3 separate regions of the Homo sapiens genome follow, and regions 2 and 3 are each linked to region 1. The links come from fine-mapping of genetic effects on gene expression. A gene starts in region 1. Each other region holds a variant in brackets. All regions are shown on one strand. Distances are from middle to middle. Region 1 holds the start of ACSM5 (acyl-CoA synthetase medium chain family member 5). Region 2 overlaps ACSM5 (acyl-CoA synthetase medium chain family member 5). Region 3 overlaps ACSM5 (acyl-CoA synthetase medium chain family member 5).

What was found.
Region 2: its variant is fine-mapped to the expression of ACSM5 in lung (TOPMed, PIP above 0.99).
Region 3: its variant is fine-mapped to the expression of ACSM5 in lung (TOPMed, PIP 0.93).

What each region holds. Positions count from the first base shown.
Region 1 is chr16:20,404,006-20,415,417 of GRCh38, reverse strand. It overlaps ACSM5 (acyl-CoA synthetase medium chain family member 5), which reads right to left and starts at 5,884. Exons shown (of 14, transcript NM_017888.3): 1 at 5,753-5,884; 2 at 3,730-3,948. The coding sequence starts at 3,933. It overlaps PDILT (protein disulfide isomerase like, testis expressed), which reads left to right and starts at 10,681. Exons shown (of 12, transcript NM_174924.2): 1 at 10,681-10,922.
Region 2 is chr16:20,433,644-20,440,233 of GRCh38, reverse strand. ACSM5 (acyl-CoA synthetase medium chain family member 5) reads right to left here. Exons shown (of 14, transcript NM_017888.3): 11 at 3,055-3,182; 12 at 2,867-2,966; 13 at 315-434. Among named protein-coding and RNA genes, the nearest start is that of ACSM2A, 15 kb to the left of the region's middle. The variant A/G (reference allele first, on the strand shown) is at 3,029.
Region 3 is chr16:20,421,195-20,432,606 of GRCh38, reverse strand. ACSM5 (acyl-CoA synthetase medium chain family member 5) reads right to left here. Exons shown (of 14, transcript NM_017888.3): 5 at 11,206-11,349; 6 at 8,538-8,691; 7 at 4,740-4,819; 8 at 2,806-2,929; 9 at 1,534-1,614; 10 at 1,286-1,387. Among named protein-coding and RNA genes, the nearest start is that of ACSM5, 17 kb to the right of the region's middle. The variant A/C (reference allele first, on the strand shown) is at 2,655.

The sequences.
Region 1 (11,412 bases):
CATCTCTATTGCTGGTTTCTGCCTCCATGGCTGAAGGAACTGAGGAACTTTGTCTAATCTCTTCAAAAAGCTCTCTGTGACTTTTTGATACTCGAATTGCTAGCAAAAGATTGTCCAACCACACTCTTGGATTTCCCTTTGCAGCATACTTTTCTGACAGTGAATATCCTAACTTTAATGTCTTTTATAATATAGGAAGGCTGAGAATTGTTCAAACCACCAGGTTCTGGCTCTATTTTTGCTTAACAATTCTTTCCTCTGTCTATTTCTTTCCTTCAGCATTGTAATATAACCAGCAAGAAGAAATCAGTCCACATCTTCAACACTTGGCTGGGAAATCTCCTTAGCTAAATATCCAAGCTTATCCCTTATAAGTTATTCTATCCATCTAGCTCTAGGACACCATTCAGCCAAAATTTCTGCCACTATATAATAAGGATCCACTTTCCTTCAGTTTCTGATATTACATTTTTCATTTCCTTCTGAGTTTTTATCATCTGTGCCTTTAATGTTCATATTTCTACTAACAGTCTTCATGATTCTTTAAAACAATACAGTCTCATCTGTCATACTCCTCCTTTCTTTTTGAGGTGTCGCTAGCAAAATCATTAATATCTGCATTTCTACTAACAGTCTGCTCAAGGCAATCTAGGCTTTTTTCCGTGCTCCTCAAAATTCTTCCAGCCTCTACCCATCACCTAATTCCAAACCTACTTTCACATCCTTTGGTATTTATTACAGCTCTCATTACTACTCTTGGTGCCAAAATCTGTATTGGTTTTGAATAATCCCATCTATTGCTGCTGTAATAAATTATCACAAACTTAATTGCATAAAACAACACAAATATACAGCCTTATAGTTCTGGAGATAAACAGTTCAAAATCAGTCTTAGTGGACTAACATCAAGGTGTCAGAAGAATTGTTTTCCTACTGGATGCTTTAGTGGAGAACCTGTGTCCTTGCATTTTCTAGTTTTCAGAGGCAATTCACATTCCTTGGATCGTGGCCCCACATCACTCCCACCTCTGTTTTCATTGTCACATCTCCTTCTCTGACTCTGACCCTCCTGCCTTCTCATAGGGTACCTTATGATTATATTAGGCTCATCCAGATAATCCAGAATAATCTCTTCATATGAATATCTTTAGTATAATCATGTTTGCAAAGTCTCTTGCCATGTAAGATAACATACTCACAGGTTTCAGGGATTAAGGTATAAAAATCTTGGGGAAGGGGTGCATTATTTTGATAACCATTGCCATGCTCTTTCTAGTTTCTTTGCGTATCTTGTAAATTTTTGTTGAAAACTATAAATTTAAAATTACATCATGTGATTACTCAGGAAATCAGATCCACCCCCACCCATTCCCCACAACTCCCCAGAGTTTGGTTTGCTGTTGCTGCTTGTTGTCATTTGTTTAGTGATTTTTGTGAACCATTTCTGTGAAGTCTGCATTATTTGTTCTGTGTGGCCACTGAGATATCTACTTGGTTAGCTTAGTAGTCATCTTATGATTAGACAGAAATATCTTTAAATGCCTGAAACCAATAAATCTCCCAGTCTTTGGGTGGGTGTTGGGGCACACCTTTAGCACTCAGCCAGGCAATTAACAATCCTGCCTTAGTGTTAATTTCCTGCATGCTCCAACTCTCAGTCTGCCAGAAGTGCGAGCTTAGAGTTTCCTCAGATCTTTTCTAAGCGTGTGCAAAGCCCTAGGAAAGCACACAGCCTTACTTAGGTGTGTTGATTTCTAGATTTCCAGGAATACAATAGAATTTTTTAAAGCTCCCATAGACATTGGATTCTCCAGCTTTTCTTTTTTCACTCTTTGGTGAATCTATTGTTTGTCCCACTGTTATCCATCACCTTAGGCAACAATGAAGCTAAAACATTTGTCTGTGATTGTTTTGGACAAAAACCCCCAGGGAAAAGGCTTTTCTCATTGGTTGAGCTTCAAGTTGATTCAAATACAGTTTTACAAGTAGGGTCTTCCAAAGAACCAATGGGCAGCTCAAATAACAACAGTTCTTCATAAGTGAAGCTTTGAAAAAACTCCAACTCCATTCTGGCCCATCTAATGGTTGCCGTGATGCACCAGAAATGGGGGCTGTTATTTTTCAAGGCTACCACATAGCTGGAAAGTCCTTATTCTACCATTTTTTTTCCTGACTTAATCCTGCTTGCTTGTTTTTATCATTAGGAGAAGTCTTCTAAGGATACCCCTAGTATTGCAAAAAGAACTTAGATTTTTGCAGGCCATCAGGAATGGAGCATCCTGGCTTCATGTCTTACATGCAATTCTCATTTAATTCTCACTATTACTCTAAGTAGCATATGGTCTGACTACCATTTTACAGATGAGAAAGTTGAGATCTAAAGAACTTAGGGCACTTGTCCAAGGTCACACTTCAAGTACACGGATGAACAATGTCTATCTGACTGCAAATCCTGCTTTTAAGTCTCAGTCATCCTCATACCACCTTCATAAGTTTCACTACATCTGCTGACAGTTAATTTTATTGTATCTACTAACAATGCCATTTACTTCATATTTTTTCTTTAAACAATCTCTTCTTATAATTAACATGAATACAATTCTTTGAATTAAATTTTATATTTCCAGTTTTGTATTCTCCAGCTTTTCTTTTTTCACTTTTTGGTGAATCTATTGTTTGTGCCTACTGTTATCCACCACCTTAGGCAACAATGAAGTTAAACATTTGTCCGTAATTGTTTTGGACAAAAACCCCTAGGGAAAAGGCTTTTCTCATTGGTTAAGCTTCACATTGGTTGAAATACAGTTTTAGAAGTATGTCTTCCTCTTATAAATGAAAAGTTAGTATCATGTAACACAAATAAAAGGTAACCATGAAATAGAGAGACCCAACAGACACAGATATAAGGGAAAATAAAGAAGAAAGCAGATGCACAGAGACACACAAAGAAATCAGGGTTATCTTATTCAATTCTATGTATCTGTTATGATCTGCAAAAAGCTTTGAGCCTGAGCCCTATTCTTTCCTTATTTTATTTTGTTTTGTTGTATTTTATTTTATTTTTTGAGGTGGAGTCTCACTCTGTTGTCTAGGCTGGAGTGCAGTGGCATGATCTTGGCTCACTGCAACCTCTGCCTCCCGAGTTCAAGCAATTCTCATGCTTCAGCCTCCAAAGTAGCTGGGACTACAGGTGTGCGCCACCATGCCTGGGTAATTTTTTTTTATTTTATTTTTAGTAGAGACGGAGTTTCACCATGTTGGTGAGGGTGGTCTCGAACTCCTGACCTCAGGTGATCTGCCCTTCTCGGTGTCCCAAAGTGCTGGGATTATGGTCATGAGCCACCGCGCCCGGCCTTCTTTCCTTATTTAGAAGAGAAGGGCGTGACAGTGAGAGAAAAACATCAAAGACAGAGTAGCAGCAAAACAAAACTTCCTCCTTCAGTTGATGAACAACTGGAAGGGAATCGGAAGGGACATAACTGTCTCACTGTGTGATTTGGGCTCAAGAATGCAGGACACTTCAGAGAAGGAACAAGCATGTCTAAGGCTCACAACACTGACTCAGAATTTTTTCCTAAGTCTCAAATGCCAACAGTTTACATTTTAGAACTAGCAAAATTCCCAGGTCCAAATTTCCTCATCAACATGCTTGGAGCCTTGAGTCTCATTGTGGTACATGAGGGCAGCCTCAGATGCCCCAGATGGACTCTAGGACAGAACAGGCTTCACCTCTTCCAGCCGACTCCACACATCCAGCACATCATGGGCGAAGTTGAAGTACTCAGGCACCAGCTGCCTTCCCAGGCTGATGGCTTCCCAGGTGGCCACGATCTTCTGAGGAACAGGTAGAGGTGCTGGCTTCCCATGAGACCCACAGAATGCCCTGGAGTTCCTCAGTGCCTGGAGGACTAGGTGTCTCAGCCATGGTCTCATGCAGTCGCCTCCTGTCTGTCACCAAAGAGAGGAAAGAGGGCATTGTCATAAATTCTGGGCTTTGGGGACAACACATAGGTTAGGAGAAACCTGTGGTTAGTGCTGATGGTGACTGTGATCCTTACTGACTTGTAGAATAAACTCTCCACCTTCAGTCTCAGTTCTGCTGTGTGATGGTCATTTCTCTCCTCTGACCCCGAGGTCTGTCCTTTTGACCTCTCACTGACTTGTGGGTATCTGGGTCTGAGGTCAGAACTCAGATCCCACTTCTCAAACCTCAATACTTCAAAAGGAATCCCTCAAAAAGGCTTTGGCCAATCCTGAACTGACCTTGCAAAGCTGAAGACAGCTCTAGGGCAGCACTGTCCAACAGAAATAGAACGTGAGCCACCTGTGCAATTTACAATGTTCTAGTACTTCCATTAAGAAAAGTAGAAGCAGGTGAGATTTATTATAATAAAACATTTTATTTAACCAGATAGAGCCAAAGTATGACCATTTCAATTCCTAGTCAATAGAAGAATAAATTGTTAAAGAGATATTTTACATACTTTTATTTATTTTTTGTTTTTTTTGGTACTAAGTCCTCACAATCTGAAATAGACTTTACCCTTACAAACACATGTCAATTTGGACTAGCCACACTTCAAGTGCTCAAAAGCCACAAGTGGCTGCTGTATGGCATGATGGGCTTTTAGTGTCTTTTTAATTTTTTTATTTAATTTTATTATTTTTAAAATTTTTATTATTGTTGTTTTTGAGACAGAGTCTCACTCTGCTGCCCAGGCTAGAGTACGGTGGTGCCATCATAGCTCACTGCAGCCTCAAACTCAAGCAGTCCTTCCACCCCAGGCTTCCTAGTAGCTGGGACTACAGGCACTAGCCACCATGTGTGGCTAACTTTTAAAAAGTTTTTTTGTAGAAACAGGATCTCACTATGTTGCCCAGGCAGGGCTTGAACCCCTGGCCTCAAGTGATCCTCCCAACTCGGCCTCCCAAGTGCTGGGATTACAGATGTGAGCCACTGTGCCCAGCCCAGTTTTAGTGTCTTGCTACTCAAAGTGTGATCTTGGGACCAGCAGATGGGACCCCACCCTACATATGTAGAATTAGAATCTGCAAGTTAACGGGATCTTCAGATGAGTCATATGCATGTTAAAGTTTGAGAGGCACTGGCCCGGGAGCTGCGTGTGACCTCAGTTTCAGTTTCCTTGCATTAAATTCCTCTTAGTAATAATAATAACAAAATATGGTAATAACAACCAACAATAATAACGTGGCACAACAAGAAAAACCATAACAGCTTCAGTCTATTGAAGGCCTACTGTGTACCAAGCATTTTAAGAGTGCTTAGAGGCATTATTTCATGAAATCTTTATAACAACTCTATGCTGTAAATGTTATTTTCTCCATTTAAAGATAAAGAAAATGAGGCTTAAAGGGGAAAAGTGACTTTCAGGTTTCACTTCCTGGAAAAACATAGGCCCCAGCCTCTGCAGTGGCCACCAGGCCTAGGCCTGCAGCCTCAGAGACTTCCTTTCTCTGACCCACCTCTCCCGCCCCTCACCTCTCCCGCCCCTCACCTCTCCCGCCCCTCACCTCTCCCGCCCCTCACCTCTCCTGAACTGAGCTCTGCCCCAGTCCTTTTCCTCAGTCTCCCACCCCTGGATTCCTCAGCCACCTAAACAGCTGATAATTTAGAATCCCCAGGCCTCCTTCCCATTCCCCGACACCATTTCAGATGTCACTTCTTGATTTAATCAGCAAAGGCCTCAGAGGCAGCTGATACCTTCGTCTGAAAAATTTCTTTCCAAATTACCTTGCTCTTGAACCAAAGTAATGCAAAAGGTCTCTGTTTTCTGCTTCAGCTGAGCAGAGCAGGGCTGAGTGGCTGTAAACACTCAGCTCCCTCAGAAAACAGCCTCCCACAGGGAACTTCAGCCCCAAATGCAGCCAAGAGTGGGCAGAGCCAGAACCCAGCAGCTGACACAGTGGCTTCCAGTGGTCAGGGTGCATTGAGCCAGTGAGAGTGGCCCCCTGCCAAGTTTTCTCAGTACTCACAGTGGCTGGAAGATCAGACCTCAACTGTCGTGCCTGGTGGGTGTGCCCAAACTGGTGGATGTATTCCCTAAAAATTCAAGTCGCCATCTAATCGGAAAAAGCAACAGGAAGATTATGACGGGTTTTTTTTTTTGTTTGTTTGTTTGTTTTGAGACGGAGTCTCCCTCTGTGGCCCAGGCTGGAGTGCAGTGGCGCGATCTTGGCTCACCCCAAGCTCTACCTCCCGGGTTTGCGCCATTCTCCTGCCTCAGGCTCCCGAGTAGCTGGGACTACAGGCGCCCACCACCATGCCCGGCTAATTTTTTGTATTTTTTAGTAGAGACGGGGTTTCACCGTGTTAGCCAGGACGGTCTCGATCTCCTGACCTCGTGATCCGCCCGCCTCGGCCTCCCAAAGTGCTGGGATTATGATGTTTTAACAGAAAAGGTGCAATAGTGATAATAATATAAGTCAGACTTTGTTTCTTTTCTGCTTAGAACCCTCCAGTAGATACAGAGAGAACAGAGGAGTGGTTCCAGGGAACGGCTCTAAGGCATCCCTTTGAAGTCATAGAATTGTTCTAAATTTGGATTGTGGTCATGACTGCAGATCTCTGTAAATTTACTACAAAAAATAGTAATAATAATTGTACACTGCCAAAAGAAGTTTTTTGGGTTTTTTTGTTTGTTTTTGGAGACAGGCTCTTGCTCTGTCGCCCAGGCTGGAGTGCAGTGGCGCAATCTTGGCTCACTGCAACCTCCACCTCCCGGGTTCAAGCGATCCTCCCACCTCAACCTCCCGAGTAGCGGGGAATATAGGCATGCACCACCATGCCTGGCTAATTTTTGTATTTTTTTGGTAGAGATGGGGTTTCAACATGTTGGCCAGGTTGGTCTCAAATTCCTGACCTTAAGTGATCTGCCTGCTTTGGCCTCCCAAAGTGCTGGGATTATAGGTGGGAGCCACTGCACCTGGCCCAAAGGTGGTTTTTCGAAAAAGCTTCCTGCAACTCCCTATCTCACTCACAGTCCAAGCCAAAGTCCTGACGATTGCCGGGTGGGATGGCTCACGCCTGTAATCCCAACACTTTGGGAGGCCAAGGCGGGCGGATCACGAGGTCTGAAGATTGAGACCATCCTGACTAACACGGCGAAACCCTGTCTCTACTAAAAATACAAAAATTAGTCAGGCGTGGTGGCGCCTGTAGTCCCAGCTACTCTGGTGGGCGCCTGTAGTCCCAGCTACTCTGGAGGCTGAGGCAGGAGAATGGCATGAACCTGGGAGGCACAGGTTGCAGTGAGCCGAGATCGTGCCACTGCACTCCAGCCTGGGAGACAGAGTGAGACTCCGTCTCAAAAAAAAAAAAAAAGTCCTGGCAATTGCCTACAGGGCCCCACAGGAATTCCTGTGAGCCTTTCGCCTCAAACCTCCTGTCTCAGTCTGCTCCAGCCATACCGGTCTTTTTGTTGTTTGTTCTCTGAAGTTCTTTTTAAATTATTTTTAATTTTTGTGGGTACATAGTAGGTATATACATTTATGGGTTACATGAGATATTTTGATACAGGCATGCAATGCGTTAGAATCACATCAGGGTAAATGGGGTGTCCATCACCTCAAACATTTATCCTTTGTGTTACAAACAATCCATTTATACTATTGTAGTTATTTTAGGTGTATGGTTACATTATTTTTGAAGATAGTCATCCTATTGTGCTAGGAAATACTAGGCCTTATTCATTCACTCTTACTACTTTTTTGTACCCATTAACCATCCCCACTTCTCCTCCAACTCCCTGCAACACTTTCCAGCCTCTGGTAACCGTCCTTCTACTGTCTCCATGAGTTCATTTGTTTTCCTGTTTAGCTCCCACAGGTAAGCGAGAATGTGCAATGTTTGCTTTCTATGCCTGGCTTACTTCCCTTAATGTAATGACTTCCAGTTCCATCCATGTTGTTGCAAATGACAGGGTTATGGGTGTCCTATAGAGAGGATGCTGAGCCATTAACTGCCTATCTTTGCAGTGATTCAAACTTCACCCTGGATTTTTATCCATCACTGTATGTTGTTCCCCTGTGACTCTGTCTCATTTCCTGGCCTGGCCAGTTTGGCCCATTTCCACGCAGGCAGCTCCTCTCCCTTGCCGCCAAGCTTGGCCACAGGGAACCATCTTATGAGCCCTCAATGTCCATTTGCTCAGCATTCAGTCCTCTACTGCGACCCAGGATACAACCTCATCTCTGAATCTGCAGCCAGATGTAAAGATACAATCTCTACCCTCAGAGGGGTGGACGGACTGTTGAACATTATTTCTCCAGCAGTCTAATCTCAATATCGTTACTCTCAATCAGTACTTTTTAGAAGAATATATAATCATAAGTCATGACAAATGTTTCATAAATGTTCAATGAAAGAACTGGATACACTTTATAGACAATATAATCACAATTTTATTTTTAAAAAGTATATATTAATCCCATACGTAACAAAATATGAATGTTTCTCTAAGTAAGATGATGTATGATTTCAATTAACTCATTTTTTCTGTATGTTCTATGTTTTAGAAATTAAATCCTGTTCTTTTCTAATCAGAAAGAAATTAATGTTATTTTATAAAAAGAAGCTTTAAGCCGGGCACAGTGGCTCACGCCTGTAATCCCAGCACTTTGGGAGGCCGAGGTAGGTGGATCACCTGAGGTCAGGCGTTTGAGACCAGTTTGGCCAAAATGGTGAAACCTCGTCTCTACTAAAAATACAAAAATTAGCCGGCCGTGGTGGTGCATGCCTGTAATCCCAGTTACTCAGGAGGCTGAGGCAGGAGAATTACTTGAACTCAGGAGGCGGAGGTTGCAGTGAGCCAAGATTGCACCACTGCACCCCAGCCTGGGCAAGAGAGCAAGACTCTGTCAAAAAAAAAAAAAGCAGCAGCAGCTTTATCAGTAAATGAGTATCATCATAAAAGTGCCTATGTTATGTCAAGAAACAACTGTGTGCAAGAGTGAAGGAAAATGAATGAAGGACATTTGGGATAATAACCCAAGTGTTTTAGTTTGTGACTAACAGTTGACAAGTGTGAAAGATGTCAAAATAATATATGCCAGACTAGATTGTTGATTTAGGCCTGGGAGAAAAAAGAGTCAAACACATCCCAGGAATTATTTGCAAACACAACATCCAGAAAAGGAATAATTGCCAAGAAAAGTTGAAAGGGACATGATGAGTTCAAATTAAGACATTCAGATATTCAGTGAGTGTGGTTCAACCAAAAAGAGCTTTTCTAATAGGCAGATGGAAAACGGTCTTAATAGTAAATGTAATCAATTGATCAAATCCTGGAGAGTAAATGAGAGAGTAACTTATAAAGGGGTGTATTTGAAGTCATGCATTTAAACAAGCCAACAAAAGTATGGAAGTTAAGTATGGAAAGAGAAGAGTGGGGCCGCATGCCGTGGCTCACGCCTGTAATCCCAGCACTTTGGGAGGCCGAGGCAGGCAGATCATTTGAGGTCAGGAGTTTGAGACCGACCTGGCCAATGTGGTGAAACCCCGTCTCTACTAAAAATACAAAAATTAGCCAGACGTGGTGGTGCATGCCTGTAGTCCCAGCTACTCAGGAGGCTGAGGCAGGAGAACCGCTTGAACCCTGGAGGTGAAGGCTACAGTGAGTGGAGATCGCGCCACTACACTGTCTCAAAGAAAAAGAAAAGAAAGAGAAGAGCAAAGCGCTAGGACTAAAACCCACAGATGTTAAAATTTAGTGAAATGAATGTTAGTCATCTCCATCAGTATTTAATAACAGTTGGGCAGCAGATAGCCAAAGGCTGCAAACTCTGACAGTAATAACGATGCTAATAATATCAACAGCCTTTTCTTTATTCATTCAACAAATATTTACTGAGCACCTATCACCAGGTAAGCAAAGTAAATTATGTGGAGTTTAGAAGAAAATTAATGCTATGAAGGAAAATAAAGCCTGGAAGGAGGATGAGGAACGCCTGAGAGGGGGATGGGGCACTTACAAATTTAAACAAAGTGGCCAGGAAAGGCCCAACTGTGGAAGTGACATTTGGGCAAAGACTGGAACGAGCTAAGGGGTGAACCCTGAGTCCACCTGGGTGAAGAGCCTCCCTAACAGGGGAAACCACAAGTGTAGAGGCCCAGACATTGTATTGGAGGACTGGCAGGGACACCAGTGTGGCTGGAGCAGGGTGAGTGGAGATCTTTCTCCCCTAGGAGATGAGGCCAGGGTGGTGATGCGTGAGGGGCTCCTGCCTTCTAGGTACTGAGCTGCTCGTTTTGCATAAATCCTCTTATTTTATCCCATCCCCCTCTCAGGCGTTCCTCATCATCCTTCCAGGTTTTATTTTTCTTCATATCATTAATTATCTTCTAAATTCCACATAATTTACTTTGCTTACAACACCCCCATGAGTTAGATGCCATGTAACAGGCATGGAAACTGAACCTCAGAAAGAGTAAGTGACATTCTCAAGGCCATACAGCTGTTCAAGACAGAGCTGGGATTCAAATTCCAATCTATAGGCACTGAGTTCAGAGCCCTCCTGGGCCATACCCAGCACCCCACACTGAGTTTTGTTTCTAGCCCCTCAAGCAAACTCAGCAAGGGCTGCCAGGCAGGGCCCCCTCTTACTCAACAATGGCCCATTCTTCTACAGGGTCACCCCTGGTCCTCTAGAACCCCAGAACTCAGAACTTTGCTGCTGAGGCTGCTGTGGCCTCTGTGTGCCCAGGAAGGGACTTCATTTCTGCCTGTGGATTCTTTAGAATGCCCAGTCGTCTGCGGGTCCTGCCCTGATCACAAGGAGAAGCCAGGAGCCTCCTCTTCAGGCTACAACCTTCCTTCTTAAGGGCCACAGAGTTTGTGGCCCCACCCCCAGCACAGCCCCACCTTGGCCCCAGGAACCCTGGGAGTGGCCTTGGCTTCCTGCAGGTATGAGCTTCAGTGAAAATGGGAAATCTGACTGATGGGCCCTGCCTTGGGAGGCTTTTCTCTACCAGGAGTCACCAGTTTAAGTTTTAAGTGTCAGTTTTGGTGTATAGATGGCTACACATTAGGATCAACTTGAGGATTTTAAAAAATAATAATAATGCCCAGACTCACCCAACCCCAGATCAATTAAATTAGAACCTACTGGGTTTGGGTTTGAACATCAGTATTTTTTATTAAACTCTCCAAGAGATTCTCAGCATAGTCATGGTTGAGAACCACTGAAATGAACCAATGGGGTTTGCTGTAAGAGTTAAATTAGGCCATTCATTCATTCATTCAACAAACATTCATTGAGTTCCAAATCTGGTACAGGCACTGTTCTGAAGGGGAGAAAACAGCTGTGAACAATGGTATTTACATTAAAAAGTTCAAAATGACAACAACAACAAAGTACACTCATAAATAATAATACAAAATATGATGCAAACAA
Region 2 (6,590 bases), 27 kb before region 1:
TCAGGGTTTCCCCCTAAATGGCCAGAAGCAAAACAGCTGGAGCCTGGAGCACAGGATCATTTTGACAGCATTTGAGCACTACCTCTTGTATCTGATTTGTGGTAGGGATCAGGCTGTTCTTAGAGTAGGAACAAAATGTGCTTTGGGGAGAATCCAAGTGAAGAAATACAGAAAAAAGCTGAAGCAGCAGCCAGGGTTACAAGTTTCTCCATATCCCCAGTGCCTGGCACAGGGCCTGGCTCTGAGTGGGAGCCCAGGCAGAGCGTGCCCATCTGATTCCCAGATCACTGTGCCCTGGAAACCCTGATATTTACCTTCCTGGGGTATTTGTATGGAGCAGTCACCCTTTTCACATGCTCCTGGAGTTCCCGCGTTAGTGCCTCTGGGTCATGAGAGGAGTAGGCTGGAGTAAGGACTATAAATGCCTTTACCACCTGCAGGAAAACAAAATACCCAGAAAAGATCAGGCCTCGTATAACAACTCTTTTCTCCTTAAGTGAGGCTTGAATAAGTGCCTACATTTACCTTTGCACCATGAAAGTTCTACTAGTTTTTTTTGGGCACAGCCAATGACACAAACAACATCAATTTTTCTTTTGCTGGCCCTTCCAGGTGTGACTATTAGGAGGATTGACCTTTCTGGGATGATTTCAAACTCCTACCTCTTTCTCAAATTACTCCCCATACTTGGAATGACACCATTTGAAGCCAACATCGCTTCTCTTAAGAAGCAAATATTTTGGAGAAAAGAGGTTCATAAACTCCTAGGGCCATTTTCTTCCAGATTTTCCTAATGAGAAAGGTAGGTAGGCATGAGTTTGAACAGGTGGGATTGAGGAAAATGCAGGCACTTGCAAGGGGAACTAGGTCTTTGGGGGTCTGCGTGGATGAACATTTGCAATCAGCAGACCCTGAACTGCACCACTTCTGTTCCAGACATCCCGAGGGACATTCTGCATCTTGGGTCTCTCTGCCCACAACTTTCCTGCAGGCTGTCTTATGCCAGGCAGGAGGAAGTGTCCCAGACTCAAGCACAACAAACATAGTTTCTGTTAGGAATGGAAGGTCACTTGGATGCTTATTAATTCCAGCATTCCTATCTGTTAACAGTATTCTATTAAAGGGGTAGCTCACTGTCCTTGCATACTTCCCACAGGGAGGAAGGCCACTATCATTTCATGTTCAGACAGATATGCTTTTAGAAAGAGCTTCCTCTTACTCTTACTACTGTAACTACGAAACATTTGTTGGACACTTTTTTTTTTTTTTTTTTTTTTTTAAGACAGAGTCTCACCCTGTCGCCCAGGCTGGAGCTCAGTGAGGTGATCTCGGCTCACTGCAAGCTCTGCCTCCTGGGTTCACGCCATTCTCCTGCCTCAGCCTCCCGAGTAGCTGGGATTATAGGCGCCCACCGCCACGCCTGGCTAATTTTTAGTATTTTTAGTAGAGATGGGGTTTCACTGTGTTAGCCAGGATGATCTCGATCTCCTGACCTCGTGATCCACCCGCCTCGGCCTCCCAAAGTGCTGGGATTACAGACATGAGCCACCGTGTCCGGCTTATGTGTTGGGCACTTTCTACACACCAGACTCAGTTCTAAGCACCATACATGGATTAAGTTTGAGCACACAGCCATTTGTCACAGTCCCAGTTAACTCACGGCATGCAGAACTAGGCATACGTTTGAGGTATGATTTCTTCAGCACATCAATGGGACTCCACACCTCCCTTATTATACATTAATGGCTTTGGATTTTAGAGGGGAATCACTTGGCCAAGAATGGCTGGCTAAAATGCAGATTCTCTGGGCTGCATTCCCAGTAATCATGATTTGGTAAGTCTGACTTTAGGTCTACAAATCTATATTTTAAACAAGAATCTCAGATGATACAGTTGCAAGCAGTCCAAGAACCAGACTTTGAGAATCTCTCCTGTGGTCTTGATGCTTCTGAGAATGCAGGCTAATGTTGCACTAACTTTCAAAAGGTAACTGTTGTGCTTTAGGATTATGTTGGATGTAAGCCAGTGAAAAGTACCTAAGTCTGCCTGTTAGCTGATCTTTCCCATAATATGCATTCCTCTGGGACCCACAGAAAGATTTCTCCTAGCCGGGCACGGTGACTCACGCCTGTAATCCCAGCACTTTGGGAGCCGGGGTGGGTGGATCACCTAAGGTCAGGAGTTTAAGACCTCCAGCCTGGCCAACAAGGCAAAACCCTGTCTCTACTAAAAATACAAAAATTAGCCAGGTGTGGTGACATGTGCCTGTAATCCCAGCTACTGGGGGGGGTGCTGGGGCAGGAAGATCACTTGAACCTGGGAGGCGGAGGTTGCAGTGAGCCAAGATCATGCCACTGCACTTCAGCCTGGACAACACAGCAAGACTCCATCTCAAAAAAAAAAAAGGATTTCTCCTATGAAAGCCCAGCTTATTAAATTTGGCCCATCTTTCTGGTATATGTAGGTCATTTTGGATACATATTCTATCCCTCTTAGGTTACAGCCATCAGCAACTATTACTGGTGTGCTTGCTATGTCCTCATCTGCAAATAGAAAAGACTTTTTATTAGACAGGATGGATAACAGAGCCTGCACCTCCCCCAAGATCTCCTGCCCCATAGCCAGCCTCTCTGGGATGTAGTTGTGTCCATTTAAAAGCAAAGTGTTGGTGTTTTCCCATTATGTCCCTTTAGAGAGTAATTGTATCTCTAAAGACATGAAGGCAACGTGTGTCTGATGGTGGCATTTCAACTTTGTGGCACAAGGATGGAGGTGAAATACAGGACAATCTGAGCCTTCCTGCTTGTTCTGCTGGGTGCTAATAGGTACAGAAGCAGGAGGCCATGTTCTTGGGTGCACTGGTTACCTCTCCCCTGATGGGGTCTGGGCTGCTGACCACAGCCGACTCCAGGACAGCAGGATGCTCTGCCAGGGCACTTTCCACTTCAACAGGCCCGATCCGGTAGCTGGAAGGGAAAAACAAACTCTTCCAAGTGGGCTTCCCTCAACCCCCATGAAATTTCAAAGG[A/G]AGGAGGAAAGTGCAGACAGCTTGACCTTGAAGAATTGATCACATCGTCGTTTCTTCCCATGAACCAAAAGTAGCCATCCTTGTCCATGCGAGCTCGGTCCCCTGTGATGTAAAAGTCCCCTTGTTCTGATGCAGCTGTCTTCTCAGGATTGTCCTGAAAGACAAAGACAACCCGTGAAGGACCCTCTGGGAACAACTGCTAAGGCCAGTTACTGCCCCAGTAGCCCCCTGTAGGAAGCTGGAGACCACTCAACAGAAAGTTCAGCAGTTCCTAAAGTCCCGGCTGCCCAGAGTTCCCCAATGGACAGGGAGTTATGGCCCTGTTTAGTTGTGGGATTTCCCTCTTTTGATTGGAATCAAGCTGCCAGCCAATGGTTAAGGGCAGTCACCCACCACCATCCTTAGAAGGGGGTCTAGAAAGCATAGTTGAAAGCAGGAGGGTGGGCACAGGGCCACTGGCTGTGGTTTTTAGGACAAGAGAACACATGAATACTCTTTGTGCTCAGGAATCACTGAGGGTAGAAAGTGAAGGGCTAGGCCGGGTGTGGTGGCTCATCCCTATAATCCCAGCACTGTGGGAGGCTGAGGTGGGTGGATCACTTGAGGTCTGGAATTCGAGACCAGCTGGCCAACATAGTGAAAACCTGTCTCTACTAAAGACAAAAAAATTAGCTGGGTGTGGTGGTGCATGCCTGTAATTCCAGCTACTCGGGAGGCTGAGGCAGGCGAATTGCTTAAACCTGGGAGGCAGAGGTTGCAGTGAGCTGAGATTGTGCCACTGCACTCCAGCCTGGGCTATAGGGCGAGGCTGTGAGATTGCACCACTGCACTCAAGCCTGGGCTACAGGATGAGATTGCAAGATTGTGCCACTGCACTGCAGCCTGGGCTACAGGGCAAGACTTCAAGTAGGAAACAAAGGAAAGGAAGGGGAGGGGAGGGGACGGGAGGGGAGGGGAGAGGAGAGTGGGGAGGGAAGGGAAGGGAAGAGAAGGGAAGAGAAGGAAGAAAAGAAAGAGAGAAGAAAAGGGAGGGAGGAAAGGAGGAAGGGAGGGAGGGAAGAAGGAAAAGAAAGGAAGGAAGGAAAGAAAGAGAAAAAGAAAGAAAGAAAGAGAAAAGGAAGGAAGGAAGAAGAAGGAATGAAGGAAAAGAGAAAGAAAGAGAAAGAAAGAAAAAGAAAGAAAGAATGAAGAAAAAAGAAAGAAAGAGAAAGAAAAGAAAGAAAGAAAAAAGGAAGGAAGAAAGAAGGAAAGAAGGAAGGAAGGAAGGAAAGAAAAGAAAGAAAGAAAGAAAGGGAGGGTGGGAGAAGGGCTCACCAAAAAGCTCATTGGTGTGGGGCAAGAGTAGAGGAAAGAGAAAAACAATGAAACTCTGATTCTCAAAGTTTCAAAGAAAAAGCTACTACTCAGCAATAAAAATACATGAAACCACACAGATGACTTGCAGAAACATCATACTGAGTAAAAGAACCCAGACAGATAAACTGGAATAGTTTGTGATTCCATTTACATGAAGTTCTTTTTTAAAAATGCAAAATTATTATATACTGACGACAAACAATGTATCAATCGCTGGGTCTGGAGTGGAGAGGATTGCCTGTCAAGGGAGTGAAAAATGTTCCCTATTCGACTGTGGTGGCAGTTACACAGGGGCGGACATGTGTTAAAAGTCATTGACTTACACACTTAACGTGGGTGAATTTTACTGTAGGTAAATTATATCTCAATTCAACAAGGACCTTCTGAGAAAAAAGAAAAAATATAAGCTACCCTAAAAATACATCTAACACAAAATCTCTGAGATGTGTATGGAGAAAACTTAAAACTCTACACAACATTAAAGAAGATATAAATAAAGTGAAAGAAAGACTTAATCGGCCTGGTGCAGTGGCTCATGCCTATAATCCCAGCACTTCGGGAGGCCAAGGCAGGTGGATCACCTGAGGTCAGAAGTTCAAGACCAGCCTGGCCAACATGGAGAAACCCCATCTCTACTAAAAATACAAAAACTAGCCAGGTGTGGCGGCAGGCGCCTGTAATCCCAGCTACTTGGGAGGCTGAGGCAGGAGAATCACTTGAACCCGAGAGGCGGAGGCTGCAGTGAGCCAAGATCACACCACTGCACTCCAGCCTGGGTGACAGAGCAAGACTCTGCCTCAAAACAAAACAAAACAAAAAAGACTTAATTAATAGAGATGTCAATTATCCCTAAGTTGTTTTATAGGCAATACAATTCTAATCAAAATGCTAGCAAACATTTTCCAAGGAACTTGACAAGTTGATTCTAAAATACAAATGAATGAGCAAAGGGCTAAGAATAGGTAAAACACTTCTAAATGAGTTGAATAACAAGGTTAGAGTTGTTCTCCCACATGTGAAGACTTATGGTAATGCTTTTGTGGATAAGACTTTATGGTATCAGTACAGAGACAGAGTAAGTGATCAAGGAAATACAAGAAAGTGCCAAAGCCTATGTATGACTATATCAAACTTTTAAAAAATGATTTATTTATTTGAGATGGAGTCCCACTCTATTGCCCAGGCTGGAGTGCAGTGGTGTGATCTCAGCTCACTGCAACCTCTGCCTCCCGGGTTCAAGCAATTCTCCTGTCTCAGCCTCCCAAGTAGCTGGGACTACAGGTGCCCGCCACCACACCCAGCTAATTTTTGTATTTTTAGTAGAGAGGGTGTTTCACCATATTGGTCAGGCTGGTCTCGAACTCCTGACCTCAGGTGATCCACCAGCCTTGGCCTCCCAAAGTGCTAGGATTACAGTCGTGAGCAACCACACCTGGCCTATATTAAACTTTTATATCTGACAAAATTAGCATGACAGATAACTGGGAAAAGGAGGATTTATTCAACAAATTGGCTTTTCATATAGAAAAAAATAAAATAGACCCCTATCTCATATCATGCATACATCAACCACAGATGGATTATAAACTTAAATGTCAAAAGCAGAATTATAAAACTATTGGAAGAAACTATTGAATATGTGTATTTTCTACCCTAAAGTTGAAAATGATTTTATAAGACACAAAAAGCACTATCCATAACATTTAAAAACTTAATGATTTGATGACATGGAAATAAATGCTTCTGTTCAACAAAAATAGCTTAAAGAAAGTGAAAGAAAGTGAAAAGATAAGCTACAACCAAGGAGGAAGATGTTAGCAACTCTTAAAACAAACAAAGGACCGATATCAAGAATATATTAAGAACTCCTATAGGCTGGGAGTGGTGGCTCATGCCTGTAATCATAGCATTTTGGTGGGCTGAGGCAGGTGGATCACTTGAGCCCAGGAATTCAAAACCAGCCTAGGCAACATGGTGAAACCCCATCTTTACAAAAAAAAAAAAAAAAATTAGCCAGGTGTGGTGGCATGTGCCTGTAGTTCCAGCTACTCAGGAGGCTGAGGTGGGAGGATCAGCTGAGCCCAGGAAGTCAAAGCTGCAGTGGCCATGATTGTGCCACTGCACTCCAGCCTTGGTGGCAGAAGGAGACCCTGCTTCCAAAAAAAAATTGTATTAAATAGTTGCATAATATTTCTGTGTGGTGGTG
Region 3 (11,412 bases), 17 kb before region 1:
ATTTTTTCAGTGGGGTCAAAGATTTACTATTGCTTCCAAGACTGATTAGCAGAAAATACATTAAATGTTAACATGATCTCAGCTTGGCATGATTACTATGTTGTGGGATTTTGTAAGTTTCTGTGATTTTAAACAAAATAAAGTAGAAGATTATTTCTCTTGTAGTGACAGAAAAACCACTAAAATGCAACATTTTGAAAAGAAATGGACTGATTTATTTCTGCTCCTTCTAATTCTGTAGCTGATTGACAGCTTAGTAGACACATGAGATGGCATTTCTATTAAGCAGTGGCTCTCAGGCTTGACATTCGAATCGCCTGGGAAACTGATCCACACCAACAGAAATGTTGATTTTAATTAAGCTGAGGTGGGGCTCAAGCATCAGCAATAACTGAGGCTTGCCAGGTGTTTCTAATGCACAGCCAGGTCTGAGAGTTTTATAGAGAAAGCTGTGAAGAAAAGAAAGCCCGACATAAACACCACCCAAGATGAATACAAAAGAGAAGCAGTTACTGAATTATCCCAGAAACTTGGACTGAAATCCCAGGTTTGTGCCCTGCTAGCAAACCACAAAGAGAATCCTGAAGACAGCTCTGACACAATAGTGCAGTTTGACCTTTATGTATTTATTTATTTTATTATTATTATTATTTTTTTTTTTTGATACGGAGTCTCGTTCCCTCACCCAGGCTGGAGGGCAGTGGAATGATCCTGGCTCACGGCAACCTCCCTGGTTCAAGCAATTCTCCTGTCTCAGCCTCCCAAGTAGCTGGGAATAGAGGCGTGCGCCACCATGCCTGGCTGATTTTTGTATTTTTGGTAGAAACGGGGTTTCACTATGCTGACCAGGCTGGTGTTGAACTCCTGACCTCAGGTGATCCACCTGCCTCGGCCTCTGAAAGTGCTGAGATTACAGATGTGAGCCACTGCACCCGGCTGCAGTTTGACCTTCAGAAGCTCCTTTCCTTTACTGTACCTCGATTTTCACCTCATTAAAACAACAGTGCTGCCCTCATGTCATGTTTACGCTTTCAGACACACCCACATTTAAATCCCATGTCCTGCCTGTACTATTTGCATGATGCTGGATAAGTCACTTCCCCTTTGTAGTAGCTTCCTTATCAATAATAGTCTTCCTTATCAATAACAGAACTTTATTAATAATAGTAGCAACCTACCTCATGCAGTCATTGTAAGGATTAAACAAATAGATATTTACAAAGTGTGGTGCACAATGCTTAGCACACAGTCACTGTCATGAGAACGGCTGTTCCCCGTCTCTTACCAAATAGCAATTGAAGAAACAGAAGGGCCGAGTGGGTCTGATACGGACGGCAACATTCCCCTCTTCTCCAGGAGGCAGGACGTTGCCCTCATCATCCACAATCTGGTAAGGAAATCATCACAGAGGTGCATACGTGAGTGTCTACACCCTGGGCCTCTCCCAGCAGCCCAGCAGCCCGTGCCAACCAGGCCTGTGTGTCTTTCTCCTCTCCATGCCAGGCCTTGCCAGAAGTTGGGGGAGGCTGCTACCTGCACATCGTAGGGTGGGGACGCCTTCCCCATGGATCCAGACTTGATTTTCATGCCTTTTGGATTGGCACAGATGACAACCTGGGGAGAACGCAGTACAGATAAAGAAGAGCCTTTCCACTTAGCTTCTTTCCTGGGCCATGCCTTTCTCTCACCCTGCCTGATAACTCTTTCTCTCATCCTCTTTTTTCTCCTCCCTCACTTTCTTCTTTCTTTCCCTTCTCCTCTCTCCATTTCTCTCCATTCTTCCTCCCTTCTTTCTTTTCTTTTTTCTTCCTTGCTCACTCCTTCCTTTCCTCTTTCTTTCCTTTCTTTCCCCTTTCCTGTTTTCTTCCTTCCCTCCTTCATTTTCTTTCCTCCTTTTTTTCATTCTTTTCCCCGTTATTTCATTCTCCATTTTCCTCTCTCCTCCCTTCTTCTTTGTTCCCTATTTCCTTCCTTCCATTCATCTTTTTCCCTTCCTTTCCTCCTTCTTTTCCTTTCTCTTTCCTTTATTTCCTCCCTCCCTTCCTTCTTCATTTTCTTCCTATTTTCTTCCCTCTTTCTTGCCTGTCTTTCTTCTTTTCTTTCCATAGTTAACAAACAATTATGGGGCACTCCAGTGGGCACTCAAACATAAAGAACTTAACCCATCTCTAAGCCAAAAGACTCAGTTGATCCCCAGATCTCTTCCTAGATGACTATAGAGGACGCTGCTTAGAATCTTGGACTCTGAACAGTGGCAGATGTAGACTGTCTTGGTGGAGACAAACAATGCCTTCAGCAGTGAGGGCTGGTTTGCTGGTCATGGTATAATTGTAAAAGTACTTTAAATTACCTTTTTTTAATTTATAAGTAGTGTGTGTGTGTGTGTGTGTGTGTGTGTGTGTGTGTATTTCAATAGCTTTTTGGGTTCGAGCGTTTTTTTGTAACATGGATGAATTCTATAGTGGTGAATCCTGAGATTTTAGTGCATCTGTAAGCTGAGTAGTGTACATTATACCCAATACGTAGTTTTTTTACCTTCACGCCCCTCCTCTCACCTTCTTCCTTCTGAGTCTCCAAAGTCTTTTATACCACTCTGTATGTCTTTGCATCCTCATAGCTTAGCTCCCACTTATAAGTGAGAACATATGGAAATC[A/C]AAAGGGAAGGAAAGCTGATGGAATTTTGTTATCAGCTTCTCCCCTGGGGGAAGGGTGGTCCCTGAGAAGCTTCAGGGAGGTGACAGCCGGAGAGGCAGGAAGCTCTCGAGGGGACCTGGGGGGTAGGGACCTGGCCCCTCCAGCACTCACCGTTTCAGACTGGCCATAGCCTTCGTACAGCTCCACACCAGTCTGGTGTTTCCACTTCTCCCTCACGTCAGGGTTGAGGGCCTCTCCTCCGGTCAGACAGTGCCTCAGGCTCTGAAACTGGTACCTTTCTCAGACAGGAAAACAAGGCCACCTATGTCAGGATCTTCATATCACCCCGCCCTCTGGTGCCACTGCCCAGATGCAAACACCACAGGCACTAGAGGGTAGATGCCCCTGCTTTTTAATCTTCTCTAAGTGAGTCCACCCACTGGCTTTGCAACCATGCTCCTCATGGACAGATAATTTTTAAAAGATCCATCCTATCTGAGTTTGAGATAAAATCAGAAGCTCATATAATAGGTTTTGGCATAATATGGTGAGTTCCAGGTAACTTGGCCAAAATAATTTAGTTGGAAAAAAACTGATAATAAATTGGTTAGGACAGTAATCTGATTGAAAAGGATAGATGAATTAGAAATTGAAAAGATAGGCCAGGCACCATGGCTCACACCTGTAGTCCCAGCACTTTGGGAGGCCTAGGTGGGCAGATTGCTTGATCTCAGGAGTTGAAGACCAGCCTGGTCAACGTGGTAAAACCCCGTCTCTACCGAAAAATACTAAAAATTAGCTGGGTATGGTGGCACATGCCTGTAGTCCCAGCTACTTGGAATGTTGAAGTGGGAGGAAAGCTGGAACCTGGGAGGCAGATGTTGCAGTGAGCTGAGATCATGCCACTGCACTCCAGCCTGGGCAACAGAGCAAGACTCTGTCTCTAAAATAAATAAATAAATAAAAATAAAAGAAAAAGGAAAAGAAAGGAAAGAAAAGAAAATGGAAAAGATAAAAATTAGACCCCTAAGAATCCCAAAAATTCCTACAGATATTAATTATGTTGCAAAATGCCCTCTCTGTTCAACAAATCATCCAAATTATAAAAAAGAACAGTGACTGCAAGTACATTTTTAATCTTGGAGGAGAGGGGAGATCAAATTGGCTTGATTAAGTTACTTATTATTACCAAAGAGCATTCAACGACATTGTTCTTAACGAGGTACTTGGAGCTTGCTTTCAGCCAAAATCATCATGTGGAGATGCACACATCAGATCAATGAATGGGATGATTTTCTTACATTGGAGAAGAATTCACTTTTAGAAGCATGTAAGAACTCCCTTTTTTGGACACTTGGTGGGTAGATTCATGTGATTAGGAAAGATGAGAGGACGACTCCTCATGACTTACGGGAGGACAAAAGAGGGAGAACAGGTCAGGGTTGGTGGATACTGAAGGACAGTGGGCCTCTCTCCATATACCCCAGCAACCAGCCCTGTTCTGCTAGAAGATGTTGCTTTGGCTTCACCCAGGATGGAGCCATCATCAGTGCCTTGTCCCTTTCTCTTGGGTGCCCAATGGCATGTGCTCAGAGAACAGTTGGCTGGGGTTAGTCTGAGGCTGAGAGTTGGGGCATCTACTGCGGTGCGGGCTTGTTAGTTTCACCACACCTGAGGGCCCTGGCCACAGACCCCACTCCACAGGTGGCTAACAATTTTCCAATCATTTCTCTCGCCTCACAGAAGTAGCAGACACACTGCTGACAGAATAGCCCATGGGTGTATGGTGTGAGGAGAAGCCTATCTCAGGTGCTAAAATTTCAGTCTGCCTTAAATCTATTTAGTTCCATCTGGATGCAAATTTTGGGGGGCCAGAAGCTTGTTCTTGAGGGGCATCTGTGAGATTTACAGGTATGTTGACTTGTCAATGTGTACGTGTATAAATGTGTGTGTGAGAGAGAGACAAAGAGAGAGGCAGAAAAATATATAGAGGGAGAGACAGAGAAAGAAAGAGAGTTGGAATGAGAGGGTAGTTGTGTGTGTGGATACCCATGCTATATATTCACATACTTAGGCCCTCAAAGCACGAAATAGACGGGCTGTACCTGGTCAGATCCTCCTGCACAAGCAGCCGAAAGATGGTTGGGACACAGCAGAGGGTGGTTATCGGGAATTTGGAGAGAGTCTAAACAAAAACAAAGGGTGAAAGATGTCCTTAGAATCATTGGGGTGGGACCATGAAGATGGAGCCAAATGCATCTTTATAGTCTCAGTACCAAAGCAGAGAAGCTGAAAACTATGTGTGGAATCCAGCAGCCAAGATGGTGTCCAGTGACTCCTACTTCCTGGCATGTGCACCTTTGGAGGATCCCCTCTCACCTCATACCAAAGTGGGTCTGTGACAGCAATGGCATACTGCCAAGGTGATGAATACCACTTTCAAGATTCGGTTATACAAAGACTATGGCTTCTGTCTTGGATATTCTTTCTCTCTGCCTTTCTTGGATCCCTTGTTCTGGGGGAAGCAAGCCACCATGTTTTGAGTATGCTCAAGCCATCCTACGGACAGGTGCACACAGTGAGAAACTGGAGACTAGCAAACACCCAGTGAGAAATTGAAGTCTACTAAAAACCACCAGTGAGGTTTTTGTTTTGTTTTTTGTTTGGTTTTTTGAGATGGAGTCTCACTCTGTCACCCAGGCTGGAGTGCAGTGGCAAGATCTCAGCTCACTGCAACCTCTGCCTCCCGGGTTCAAGCAATTCTCTGCCTCAGACCCCTGAGTAGCTGGGATTACAGGTGCCCACCACCAGGCCCGGCTAATTTTTGTATTTTTAGTAGAAACGGGGTTTCACCATCCTGGCCAGGCTGGTCTTTAACTCCTGACCTCATGATTCACCCGCCTTGGCCTCCCAAAGTGCTGGGATTACAGGTATGAACCACTGTGCCCGGCCACCAGTGAACTTTTAAGCAATTTTCCAGCTTCAGTCAATCCTTAAGATGATTGCAGTCCTAGCAAATATCTTCTTTAAAATTATTGTGGCAAAATACACACAACATAGGATTTGCCCATTGGAACGGTTTTTAAGTGTATAGTCCAGTGGGATTAAACATTTCCAGAGTGTTGTGCAACCATCGCTACCATCCACCTCCAGAACTATTTTTATCTTCTCAAACTTAAACTCTGTACCCATTACACAATAATTTCCCATTAATCTCTCCCCTAACTCCTGGTAAACACCATTGTACTTTCTGTCTCTATGAATTTGACTACTCTTGGAATCTCATGTAAGTGGAATCATACAGTATTTGTCCTTGTATGACTGGCATGTTTCACTTAGCATAATGTCCTCAAGGGTTATCCACGTTATATCATACAACAAGATGTCCTTCCTTTTTAAGGCTGGGTAATATTCCATTGTACATATACACCACATTTTGTTTATTCATTCATCTGTGGATGGACACTTGTGTTGCTTTCACCTTTTAGTTATTGTTAATGCTGCTATGAACATGAGCATACCTTGCTGACCTCTTGATTGCAACCTCATGAGAGACCCTGCTCCAAAAACCCCTCATTAAGCTACCTCCAGCTTCCTGACCATCAGAAACTGTGAGATAAATGCTTGTGTTTTAAAGTGCTAAGTTTCGGTATAATTTATTACATAGCAATAGATAATGAAAACACTATATCAGAGCTGGGGACAGTGCAAGGAGAAGGTCCATACATTGGCTGATCAAGCACTACATGGATAATGATGGTGATGAGTTTGATCATGATGATAACAATCAATATGGGTTAAGAATCTACTATATTTGGTCCACCATGTGATACCAGCTTACTCCTGCAAGAATGGCCATAATCAAAATATCAAAAAATAATAGATGTTGGCATGGATGCAGTGAACAAGGAACACTTCTACATTGCTGGTAGGAATGTAAACTAGTACAACCACTGTGGAAAACAGTGTGGAGATTCCTTAAAGAACTAAAAGTAGAACTACCATTTGATCCAGCAATCCCACTTCTGGGCATCTATCCAGAAGAAAAGAAGTCATATGAAAAAGATACTTGCACATACATGTTTATAGCAGCACAGTTTGCAATTGCAAAAATGTGGAACAAACCCAAATGCCCATAAATCAACAGGTGGGCAAAGAAAGTGTGGTATATAAATATATATAATGGAATACAACTCAGCCATAAAAAGGAATGAATTAATGGCATTCGCAGGGACCTGGATGAGATTGTAGACTATTATTCTAAGTAAAGTAACTCAGAAATGGAAAACCAAATATTTTATGTTCTCCCTCATAAGTGGGAGCTAAGCTATGAGGATGCAAAGGTGTAAGAATGGCACAATGGACTTTGGGGACTTGGGGAAAATGGTGGGAAGGGGGTGAGGGATAAAAGACTACAAATTGGGTGCAGTGTATACTGCTCAGGTGATGGGTGCACCAAAATCTTACAATCACCACTAAAGAACTTACTCATGTAATCAAACACCACCTGTTCCCCAATAACCTATGAAAATAATTTTTTTTTAAAAAAAGAATCTACTATGTTTTGAAGCAACCTAAGTGTCCATCAACAGATGAATGGAAAAAGAAGATGTACATATACACAATGGATCCATAAAAAAGAATGAGGTCCTGTCATTTGCTGCAACATGGATGGAACTGGAGATCATTATGTTAAGTGAAATAAGCCAGGCACATAAAGACTAACTTCACATATTCTCACTTATTTGTGAGATTTAAAAGTCAAAACAATTGAACTCATGGAAATAGAGATTAGAAGGATGATTACCAGAGGCTGGGAAGGGTAGTCGGGGGCTGGGAGAAAGGTGGGGATGGTTAGTTGGTACCAAAATAATAGAATGAATGAATAAGACCTGTTATTTTAAAGCACATCAGGGTGACTATAGTCAATAAAAACTTAATTGTACATTTTAAAATAACTGAAAGAGTATAATTAGATTGTAACACAAAAGATAAATGCTTTGAGGGTATGGATACCCCATTCTCTATGATGTGATTTTCACGCATTGCATGCCTACATCAAAACATCTCATGTACCCCATAAATATATACACCTACTATGTATCCACAAAAATTAAAAATTATTTCAAAAAAGAACCTATGATGTGCTGGCCCCTTTGCCTTGTATCATTTCATTCTCGCAGCAAATCTATAGAGAAATGTATCCCTTTCTTACAGATGAGGCTGAAACTGCAGCTCAGGAGATTAAGCAGCTTCCCCAAGGCCACACAGCTAGCGAATCAAAGGTGTAGGATCAGAGTCCAGGTCTGACTCTTTGACTGATGGCACAGCCTATGCAGTTAGCTACCATGTGATACAGCTTATCTCAGTACAAATAATATGAGCAGAAGTGTCCTCTGACATTTTAAGGAATGACAGGATGTGGGGGGTGGAAGAAAGGTGACCTGTGTCTTGACTGGGGCCACCAATCTCCTCCCTCCCCATGAGAAGACCCTGAGAGGCTGAGCAGGAGTCACCAGGACTCTCTAGTTGGGCCAACTACTCATGTTAAGAACCATGGACAGTAGCATTTGGAGTTGAGGCATAGACTGATTTTGCCTAAGGGTTTGACAAATACCTAGGGTTTTGGCAGGAGCATAGGGAAGAAAGTGGTGGAAACAAGGGCACCCCATGCAAAAGAAATAGCAACAAAATGGTCTTACATCTAGGAATGTAGCTAGAGCATAGGCAATGATTGAAGGGAACCAGGTGGTCAGGAACCAGATTATGGAAGGCCAGGGAGCCACACCAAAGAAGCCTTAAATTCACTGATTTATGTGTTTTCTCCTGCAGTCTGAAATCTATATCCCACTCATCTCATTTGTACCCAACACATATGGGGTATTGTTGGTTTTTCCTCTTACATTCAGGATAACTTTGGCATCAACTCGGGGCAGCTCATGCACAAAAATGCAAGATCCATTAGGCCAGGCAGAGAAGAGAGTCCAGGCTGCCTTCACCCAGCCAGTGTCAGTCGTGTTCCAGAAGATGTCAGATTCGGTCAAGGCCACCCACCGTCTGCCAAAAATTAGAGAACGTCAGTAACCTTGGCAATGACTCTACCTTTAAAAAGGATTGTATTATCTATATCACCACATTTGGAGCCCTGCTCAGTGGGTACTCACTTATACTTGTGAAACCTGAACAAGACCATCAAGTCAACTATTGTCTCAACCAGCATCTTCCATGTACCTATGCCCTAGGCTAAGAATACAGAAGCAAAAAGAGTTTCCAGAAAGTTCACAGTCCAGTGGATGTGATATATAAGGGGAAAAAATTAACCTCAATACTCTGTGCTAAGGTCACTTTATTTAGCCAACATTTATTTAGCATTTAGTCTGGACTTAGCACTAGGGATCTAGAAATGAACGATTAGTCTTGCTTTGAGGGCCTTATAGGAAGCCCCTGGAGAGCATGTTTTAATAGAGCTAAACACAAAGCCTTGTGCAATTATAGAGAATAGGCACCTAACCCAGAGCAATGATGGACATGGGTTTCTGAGAAATGCTCTGGTAGAGGAAGTGACACTTGAGTTAGACATAAAGAATAAATAGGGATTATATAGGTGAGGCAGAGAAGCAGGAGCATCCCAGGAATGGGAAACAGTGTCTGCAAACATGGAAGACATAAAAAGCGGTCATGCACTTGAATCCTGGGACACGCGCACTCCTGGTTCTCCCCATTTCATTGGCTGTTCCCTTCTCAGTCTCCTCTGCTGAGTCCTCCTGGTCTTCCCCTTCAGTGCAGAAATGCCTCGGGCACTCAGTCCTGAGACCCATTCTCTTTTCAGTTTATATTACACTTTGCTGATCTCATCCCATCTCATGGTATGAAATACCATCTTTACACTGATAAGTTCAGCATGAATCTTTCTCATTAACTTCAGACATGTGTATCCAAATGCCCACTCAACATCTCCACTTTTAACAAGGAGATGGAGATTTCTAAGAAGACTCTCAAATTGACAACTCCATAAACAAACTGTTTTCTTGCCACCAGACAGCTCATCCCACAGTTCTTCCCCCATCATTTAGTGCTTCCAGTTGTTCAGGCCATTCCTCTTAGAGCTCTCCTTGACTCCTCCTTCTCATTCCACACTGATTCTGTCAGCAAGCCTTATTGGGTCTAGGTTGAAAATACATTCAGAATCTCATCTCTTCTCCCACTACTGCTCCCCGGGCAAGCTACCATGCTTGCCTCTTAATGCACTGGTCATCTTCTTTACCTGTTTCCCCTACAGTTACATTGTCAACCCAACATCCTGAGTGAGCCTTTAAAAAACATATTAGATTATGTCACTCCTCTGCTCAAAATACCCAATGCTTCTCAAAAAAAATTAAACATAGAATTACCATATGATCCAGCAATTTCATTTCTGCATGTATATCCAAAAGAAGTAAAAGCAGAGACTCTAACAGATACTCACATGCCAGTGTTTATAGCAACATTATTGACAATAGCCAAAATGTGGAAGCTACCCAAGTGTCTATCAACAGGTGAATGGATTATTTAAAATGTGGTCGAGGCCAGGTGCAGTGGCTCATGCCTGTAATCCCAGCACTTTGAGAGGCCAAGGCGTGAGGATCATGAGGTCAGGAGTTCGAGACCAGCCTGGCCAACATGGTGAAACCCGGTCTCTACTAAAAATACAAAAATTAGCTGGGTGTGGTGGCGGGCACCTGTAACCCCAGCTATCTGGGAGGCTGAGGCAGGAGAATTGCTTGAAACTGGAAGGCAGAGGTTGCAGTGAGTGGAGATCGCACCACTGCACACCAGCCTGGGCAAAAGAGCAAAACTCTGTCTCAAAAAAATAAAAATAAAATAAAAAATAAAAATAAATAAAATGTGGTCTATCCATACAATGGAATATTTTTCAGTCTTAAAAGGGAAGGAAATTTTGACACATGCTATGACACGGATGAACCTTGAGGACATTATGCTAAGTGAAAGAAGCCAAATTGCAAAACAAAAGGACAGACTGCATGATGCCAGTTACACGAAATACCTAGAGTATCAAATTCACAGAGATGAAAAGTAAAATAGAGGTTACCAGGGGTGAGGGGAGAGGGTAATGGGGTGTTATTGGGTAATGGGGGCACAGTTCTCATTTGGAAAGATAAAGTAAATTCTGGAAATGGATGGTGATTGTGGTTGCACAACAATGTGAATGTATTTAATGACATTAAACTGTACACTTAAAATGGTTAAAAGGGTACATTTATGATATATGTATATATATGTTTATATGTGTATGTATGTATATATATGTGTGTGTGTATATATATATATATATATATATATATATATATATATATATAGCCACGATTTAAAAAGAAACCTCCCATGGCTTTTCACCTCACTCAGAGTAAAATCCAGAACCATCAAGATCCTTCCTAAGCTGCTCCTATTGGCTTCTCAGTAATTCTGTTGGCTCTCTGACCTCCGTTCCTGACACCTTTCCCCTCACACCACCCCCTCCAGACCACTCCCCACTTTCTGTTCTTGGATCCTCTAGACAAGCTGCTCTGGTACCTTCCGCTGGCCACAAAACCCAGTCCGTAGCTGCTCTGGGAGTGCTCGACCATCTTGGGGGCCCCGGTGGTTCCGCTGGTAAAGTAGATGGCCAGCGGGTCTCGACTCTTTGTCCTCATGCAGTTGTGCTCTGTAGAAGCCTCCCTGTAAAACGTAAATACACTAGGTGGCACTACCACGGTAAAAACAGTTAGTAGCACCAATAAT